Linked DNA regions of Homo sapiens: region 1 is linked to region 2. The links come from fine-mapping of genetic effects on gene expression. A gene starts in region 2. The other region holds a variant in brackets. All regions are shown on one strand. Distances are from middle to middle.

Region 1 (4,396 bases), 190 kb after region 2:
TCCTCTGGGAGAAAATCCACTGGTTTTCTCGTCTGGAATTCTCTGTCACTGCAGCCCCTTCCCCTCCCTTTCTCCTTGTCTTAGGTTCTTCCTGGGTGCTCCACCCTGGCCCTCTTCTTTTCCTGCCCCTGTACCTAGACCTGCCCTCAAGTGGGGGACTGAGGAGCAACCCCTTCCTCTCCCTTCCTCAGACCCAGAGCTTGGACCCTTAGCTCCGGGGGGGCCGCTGGGGCCTGCTCAGGGCTCCATCAGCCTTAGGCCAGCCCCAAGATGCTGATTGAAGATGAAGGTGATAAAGTGTGTGTCACTCGTTTGTCTAGCCTGATTTATTAGCAGTGTTTGGAGTATAATTATTCTATAGTAAAATATCTATGAGAGAGTAATATCCCAATTGGTGTGGCTCCTGGGTCTAATTGCTCCCACTCAGGCCTGTCAACAGCGGTGCAGCAGTCACTTCCTTTGAGAACTGGGAGGGAGGGTCTGTGAGGAGCAAGTAAACATATGGCCTCAATGACTCATGCCTCCGAAGGGCTGAGGGAGGGGCCAGGAGACATGCCTGGCCTATGTCCTTCCACCAACCTGGGGCCACCAGCATTTTCCTGCTCAGTCCAGGGAGGCTGGAAGTGGAAGCACAAGAACTGTAGGCAGTCCACAGAAGCTGAGTCCAAATCCCATATAGACAACCCTGAGCAGAGACAGGCTTCCTCCAACCAGGGACAGCCTCACAGGGTGACTGTGGATGTGTGCAGAGGTGAGATCCTATGAGCCCAGGGCTTTGGTCGAGGAAGAAGGCCTTCCTGAGGCTCCACAAGGGAGGAAAGGGCATGGGTGCCCAGGCTAGGAGCAGCTCCCCCAACTCGCAACCCCCTGAGGCTCTAGCTGAATGGGCACCTGCCTTAATGCTAGGGGCTGGCTGTAGGCTGGGGCTTCTGTGCCACATGCTCTCCTCTGGGCCCCAGGGCAGGAATGAGCCTGCCTCCTGCCTCCCTCCACTCTGTCACCACTCTACTGATTAAGCATATACTATGCGCCTTTACTAGCTACATACTTTATTTTGAAACCGTTTAATAACCCTGAGGAAGAGGTCATTATTTTTCCTATGTACATTTTTCCCCAATTAAATCAATCAAATTATGTGCAAATATTTAGGAAAAGTAATATATGCACATGGTAAAAAATTTCAAACAAGACAATAATTATTCAGTGTAAGGAAGTTTTCTTCCTACGAACCCAGGTCCCCTCCCCAAAGGCAGCCAGACTGGAAACCAGCCCAAGAAATGTGAAGTGACCTGCCCAAGGTCACAGGGTAGTAAAGCTGGAGTTTGAACTCAGGACTAGCTGGTCTCTTTTGAGTCATGAAATTTCCACTTTGTCAGACAGATTCTTGCCCAGTGTGTCAAAAGAGTCTGCGTTCTCTTGAAAAGCTCGAATCTCCTTGGTGGGAGACTTTCCTTCCTGGTAAGGTGGAACTTGGAGATCATACAGAGTAGGCTCAAGCCCTTGCTGTACCCAAAACAGCTGTACGCCTTGGGCAGCCATTTAATCTCAATTGTTCATTCCTTCGAAGGATGGTCTTGACCTCATCAGGTTGTTTTGAAAGAGCCACCATAGCTTGTGGCTTCATATGTAAGAGCCGACTCTCATCAGGTGAAGCAAGAAGGTAGTGTTCCTGTTGCAGCTCCTGAGTGATTGGCTGAGTTTGTTCCAAAGGGGCAGCCCTGTTTGCTTTGAGTAGGCCCCAGATCACCCAGAGATTTTCAGGTCATCTTGCTTGACCAGGGGCTCAGCCATCCGACAGACTGGTCCAATGTGCAAGCCTGGGCTTTATTTACTCCCAGCCTTACCACCTGCTAGTGTGAAAAGTTGAGCAGACCATGAGACTTCCATGTTAAGTGGGAATTTTCACAGTGCTGCACCAGGGTTAGATGAAGGTGAGATGGGGGATTGCACATAAGGTTCTGAGATCAGTGCTTGTCTCCTACTGCATCGTTATTGTTTTATCATTATTAATGTTTAAGCTCTTAGAGTCAAAATAATAATGCCTGGAGCGTGGGTCCACTCTTTTCCCTGGGACTCCATTATTT[C/A]TCTTTGAAGCACAGGAGCCAATCCCCCTGGTCCCTATCAGGAGCCACACAGTTTTGGTTGAAGAGGGAGGGGCTGAGAGTCTGGTAGGCTCATGGGTGTGGTTATCCAGCGCAGGGGCCAGAGAAGTGCCCTATGCTCTTCTTTCCCCACCGTGCTTGGCTGACTCTAAAAATTCCTGGGCACATCACAGTTACTAGTCAGCTTTCTGGACATGTCTATTCAAAGAAGTTTCTGGAAGATCAGAGAATCTTGAAAAGGTGAAATCCAGTCTCTTGGGCAGAATCTCCACCACCTTGGTGAGCCAGCACCCAGCCTTTGCTCTGTGATTCGGGGCAAGGCCAGCACATCTACTTTGCAAGCACAGTTAGCCTTCTGAGAACCTGGGCTTGGGTCTCTGAGCTATCTCAGTTCATCACAAAGGGAGACCCTGGCACTATACCTATGTGTTAAGTGAGCACTTTCCGCCAGGGGGGCTTAAGGCATATAGGCCTTCTGATCCCATTTCCTATAAAGGCATCCTTCATTCATATATTCGGATGTTTACTGTGCTCCTACGTTTGTGCCAGGCACTGTGCATACAACAAGATAGACAAAGTTCTTGTCTTCCTAGGGGAGGCTAGTAGTGAACAGTAAATTAGACATTTTCAGGTTATAATAAGGTCTAGAAAGAAAATAACAGCGTGATGTAAATATGTGATGCTGAGGACAGTTATTGAAACACAGAAGATGCTAATTTCCAAGCCTCTGCAGACTGTGTTTTTATTTCCTGTGCGTCTGCATCACTGGCTCACACTGGAAGCTGGTCAGGTACCCTACCAGTTGTGGCTTAACTCATTAGTATTACATAGAGCAAACTATGGCCCATGGGCCAAACCTAAACAACTGCTCTTGCTCCAAATCTAATAATCTTAAACAAGCTTATTTTCTCTGGATTCTTCTTTCAGCTGCTTCGATCAAACACAATTTAATTAACTTACCATTGGTAAATGGCTTTCCTTGCTTGGCTAACAAATGAGCCACCCGGAAACCTACTTTGGTTGCAGCCTTATTCTTATTTTTTATTGTTTTGCGTGTCTGCTATGATGAAATATACTGTTTTAAGTTTTCTCTTTTTTGACATTGTTTTTCTGTGAGATGGGAATATCGTGATGTCAGTGTATCTCATATTCTGTTAACACAACTAATAACAAACACAGTACTTTGCCATGTAATGTGATAAAATAATAATCCATACCCACTGCGCCTTAAAAGTGTGACATTTGAAGTCCACTTTTCTTGTTTTCATGTGATGGGTATGCACCAGTAATAAAATAAATAAATAAATAAAATGTGTCACTGGGTGAGGTACTGCAAGTTGTAACTATGTTACCACCATCTGTAGTTTACTGAGCACCTCATCAGGTCTCAGACTCAGCTACTCAACTCTGCCACTGTGACACAAAGGCAGCCATAGACAATATGTAAACAAATGGGCATGACTGTGTTCCCATAAAACCTTTTGTTGTGAACATTGAAATTTAAATTTTATATAGTTTTCACATGTAACAAAATAATATTCTTTTGATATTCTCCAACTCATTAGAAAATATAAAAACCCTTCTTAGGTCACAGGCCATACAGAAACGTATCAGGAAGAATTTGACCCTTTGGCTATAGTTTTCCAACCCCTAATATAAATGGTTAATAGGGCTCTTGAAATAGAATGAGCACCCTGCGAGGAAAATGCTAATAATTATCTGCAGCTGAAAGCATTAAACCCTCTCAGCAGTCCTTAGGAATTGGGCTTTTTCTTGGGTGCCCACTGTCTCTGTGCTAACACTGGGATGCATATACTACTTTATGTGCTGTGTTTTTTATTCTTGGATACATTTGATTTTTTCACATAAGTCCACGTGTACTTCTATAAGAGTGTGACTTGTAATAAAGGGTTAATGAAGAAAAAAAAAAAAGAAGAAGAGGGAGCTTGGATTGGTAGAGACATCCAGAGGTCTCACCTGAGTGGGAGAAGAAAAGAAGTGAAAGTGTTCTAAATGGCTAATCTTTCTGGGGAGAGGGTTTAGGAAAGACTACTAGAGCATATGGTGATAAGGGAAATAGTTGGTATCCTGTTTCAAAGTAAAAATATAGAAATATGTGCAAGATTTTGAGTACAGAGAAAGGGAAAGAAACTATATGAATGCAGTGAAAATGTAATAGCACTTTCACATTCTCAGAGGAGAAACTGGAATGAATTTGATTAAACCAACAAAAATAAGGAAAAAAGAACAATGTTAATAAATAATAATAATAACAGAAGGAACAACATTAAGTA
Region 2 (4,396 bases):
TATATTCTATATATTATATATTATATATTCTATATATATTATATATATTATATTATATATTATATATATAATATATATTCTATATTCTATATATTCTATATATATTATATGTTCTCTATATATTCTCTATATATCTATATATTCTATATATATTCTGTATATATTCTATATATATTCTATATATATTCTATATATTCTATATATATTCTATATATACTCTATATACATTCTATATATACTCTATATATTCTATATATACACTGTATATATTCTATATATATATACTCTATATATCTATATATAAAATCTATATATATTCTATATATAGATATATAAACTATATCAAGTGATCTGCCTGCCTCAGCCTCCCAAAGTGCTGGGATTACAGGCATGAACCACCGTGCCCAGCCAAACCTTTTTTCTTTTCATTACCATTTCAGGATTCTGTTTAAAACAGAGGTAAGAAATGAGGTTTATTTGAAGCCAGGCCCTGTACAAAGTCTTTGTTAGTTGAAATATTTCTCAGAGGTACATAAAGCCTCTAAAGCTCTTATTACCTATTTACTAACCCTCCCTTTTAAATACGTTTACTGCTTTTACTACTAGATTTTTTTTAATGGGAGGCGTATTTTTACAGTTTCCTATTTGCAAGGTGGGAAAACGGAAACAAAGATTCTGTTCTCTTCTTGTAAGGACCCTAATCCCATCACAAGGGCCCGCTCTCATGATCTCATCTAACCTCCCAAACGTCCCATCTCCAAATACTATCACACTGGGGGTCAGGGTGTCCACATATGAATTTGAGAGGGACACAATTCAGTCTATGACATGGACTCTGTTCCTAGTGGAGAGTGGTGGAACGAAGGAGGCAGTTACTGCAAGCATGAATACATCCGCACATGGTCTGGCTCATCACAGAGGGCAAAGGTAAGATCCTGTGAACTTTGTGCTCCACCGCCACAGTGTTACAAAAACACTCTCTTCTCCAGAAAAATGGAAGGAGGAGGCAATGTTGGGCTAGCATTCCTGCCTGGTATCACTGGCTGAGACTGAGCAGTGGCTTCCCTCTTTGCACAGGAAAAGGGCTCTCCAGGTCTCCCAGGTCCCCACCACTCCCTGTCATCTTAGACTCTTTTAACTTCTCTTCTTTGATTTACCCACCACCTGGCCAGAGCAGACACTTAGGTTTGTTACCTCTGGTTGGTGACTATGGCTGACAACCTTTTTTGTGGTTCTAGACACTTCAGAATCTAGTGAGAGTTGTCGACCCTCTGTCTAGCAAGAGCACATCACAACACATTGTGCGTTCAATTTAGAGGTTTGTGGCCTCTCCTAAGCCCAGGCTACAGACTCTCAGGGTGAGAATTTCTGAGTCAGAGATAATGTTGTCCTCTTCCATCTTCAAACCATCTTTTCCCATGGTTGGCTCCTTCTCAACACTGGAGTTTCAACTCAAACAGCAACTCCTAGATGTCTTCCCTGACCCACAGTTAGGTAGCTGTCCATCCTCCCTCTCCTGCTCCTTTTTATCTCAGCTTTTATTTTCCCTAGGAGACTTCTCGCTCTCTGAAATGGTCTGGTTCAGGCTGTATTGTTTGACTTAGCCCTCACCCCCTGAATGTAATATTAGCGGGCACTGTAGCCCAGCGGAACCCACCAGGCACTTGGTAAGATCTTGCTGAAATGTATGAATGATTGGAAGTGTGTCCGGAGTTGGTTTCTTCCAGTGGGTTCCTAGTCTCGCTGACTTCAAGAATGGAGCCGCGGACCTTCGCAGTGAGTGTTAAAGCTCTTAAAGATGGCACAGTCCCAAAGAGTGAGCAGCAGCAAGATTTATTGTGAAGAGCAAAAAGCTTCTGCAATGCGAAAGGGCACCTGAGAGGGTTGCTGCTGCTGGCGGGGGTGGCCAGCTTTTATTCCCTTATTTGCCCCCTCCCCCACGTCCCCCCGCCCTCCCCCGCCCCCCGCCGTCCCCCCGCCCTCCCCCCCGCCCCCGTCTTCCCGCCCCCCCCGCCCCCGTCTTCCCCCCGCCCACCCCGCCCCCCCCGCCCCCCTTCGCCCCCCCATGTTCCGTTTTTGTCCTATCAGAGCGCCCTTTTTTCAATCCTCCCTGTGATTGGCTTCTTTTAGGATCCTGCTGATTGGTGCATGTTACAGAGCACTGATTGGTGCGTTTTACAGAGCGCTGATTGGTGCATTTTACAATCCTCTTGATAGCTATAGAAAAGTTCTCCAAGTCTCCACTCACCCAGAAAGTCCAAATGGCTTCACTTCTCAGAAGGATCCCTCCATCTCGGGCTCCTAGAGGCTTCAGGCAGGAGGAGCCACGTGAGAGAGAAACCCTGCCTACGGTGACCTCCAGTTCCTAGACCACCCACTCGGAGCACGGCGCTCGGCTGTGCCCGTGAGCCTCAGGAGGGCGGAAGCTTCCGGGCCGGAACGGGTGTGCACAGCGCGCCGGTTACGGGGGGGCAACTTAACGGGCCGGACCGCGGCGACTACCGAGGGAGGTGAGGGGCGGGCCGGGCGGGTGTCCGAGGCGGCGGCGGCGGCATGGCAGGGCGGCGGGTGAACGTGAACGTGGGCGTGCTGGGCCACATCGACAGCGGCAAGACGGCGCTGGCGCGGGCGCTAAGCACCACAGCCTCCACCGCCGCCTTTGACAAGCAGCCGCAGAGCCGCGAGCGCGGCATCACGCTCGATCTGGGCTTCTCGTGCTTCTCGGTGCCGCTGCCCGCGCGCCTGCGGTCGTCTTTGCCCGAGTTCCAGGCAGCGCCCGAGGCCGAGCCCGAGCCCGGCGAGCCACTGCTTCAGGTCACGCTGGTCGACTGCCCCGGGCACGCCTCCCTCATCCGGACCATCATCGGCGGTGAGCGCGGGCCGGGGCGGGAGCCGGGCTCAGGGACGCGGGCGGAGCGACCGGGCCCCGTGTCCGAATTCGCTCGAGCCTTTGCCGGGACGGGAAATCGCCCCACCTCATTGGTGGGGCTCCTGACGCCCCAAGAGGCGGACGTGACTTGCCTAGGGCTCCGCAGCAAGTGAGCGGAGGCTTTGAGATTCAGCTTTTCCCATCCAGCAGAACCGAGCTGCAAGGCGCCTTCCTTAAAAAAAAAAAAAAAAAAAAATCAAAAAATCCCTACCAAATGTGTTTATAATACATGGTCAAGTAAAGAAAACTCAAAATAAGAAAACTCACAAGCTACAAAAAGGGTATACATACAAAGGCTGTCTTCATTCACCTGTCATTTGGTCTGATTCCCGTTCCTAGAGCCAACCGCTGCTACCAGTTTTTGTATATCATTTCAGAAAGGCTCCACGTCAATACAAGCATATCTGTGTGTATGTATAAATCCCTCTTTCCCTCATCCTTTTAGACACGATTTCACTCAACATTGTGTCTGGAGAGTGCCCCATATCTGTACACAAAGCTACATCATTCTTTTTAAAGCTCACATAGAATTCAACTGCACCCTTGTACCAACATTTTCTTTTTCTTTTTTTTTTTTTCTTTTTGAGACAGAGTCTTGTTCTGTCGCCCAGCCTGGAGTGCAGTGGCACGATCTCGGCTCACTGCAACTTCCGCCTCCTGGGTTCAAGCGATTGTCCTGCCTCAGTCTCCTGAGTAGCTGGGATTACAGGCGCGCGCCACCACGCCCGGCTAATTTTTTTGTATTTTCAGTAGAGACGGGTTTCACCATGTTGGTCAGGCTGGTCTCAAACTCCTGACTTCATGACCCGCCCGCCCTGGCCTCCCAAAGTCCTGGGATTACAGGCGTGAGCCACCACGTCCGGCCTGTACCAACATTTTCTGAACAAATCTTTTAATGATGGACGTTTATGCTGTTTCCAGTATTTACAAACCATTTTGCAGTGAATATTCTAGAACAGAACTCTTTGGTATGTTCGCATATATGTAGGATAATAGATAATAACTGGCTGGGGCAAGGGGCATGTGTGTTTTCGGTCGTGGTGGGTACTGCCAAAATGCCCCACAAAGAGGTACCATTAATTTTTAATTATACATGTAATACATGAATACATGCTACTTGTGAAGAAATAGAACATCACAAATAAGACAAACATTCCCTTACCCACTCCTCTGTCCTAAATTCTGTACCCCTCCTATCTCTGCAAATGAAAAGACCCGTTTTTTGTTTTTTTGTTTTTTTGTTTTTTTCTGAGATGGAGTCTCGCTCTGTTACCAGGCTGGAGTGCAGTGGTGCAATCTTGGCTCACTGCAACCTCTTTCTCCCCGGTTCAAGCGATTCTCCTGCCTCAGCCTCCCAAGTAGCTGGGACTACAGGTGCACATCACCACACCTGGCTAATTTTTATATTTTTAGTAGACATGGGGTTTCACCATATTGGCCAGGATGGTCTTGATCTCGACCTCGTGA

Evidence for each region. PIP is the estimated chance that this variant, and not a neighbour inherited with it, causes the effect. A credible set is the group of variants that fine-mapping cannot tell apart.
Region 1: its variant is the best candidate, but not a certain one, in a credible set for the expression of EEFSEC in whole blood (TOPMed, PIP 0.84).

What each region holds. Positions count from the first base shown.
Region 1 is chr3:128,343,241-128,347,636 of GRCh38, forward strand. All of the region lies in intron 5 of EEFSEC (eukaryotic elongation factor, selenocysteine-tRNA specific), which reads left to right. Among named protein-coding and RNA genes, the nearest start is that of DNAJB8-AS1, 120 kb to the right of the region's middle. RefSeq lists a silencer at 188-601. The variant C/A (reference allele first, on the strand shown) is at 2,085.
Region 2 is chr3:128,150,955-128,155,350 of GRCh38, forward strand. EEFSEC (eukaryotic elongation factor, selenocysteine-tRNA specific) reads left to right here and starts at 2,527. Exons shown (of 7, transcript NM_021937.5): 1 at 2,527-2,869. The coding sequence starts at 2,554. It also overlaps a transcript of RUVBL1 not described here. RefSeq lists an enhancer at 2,158-2,387 and a silencer at 2,518-3,037.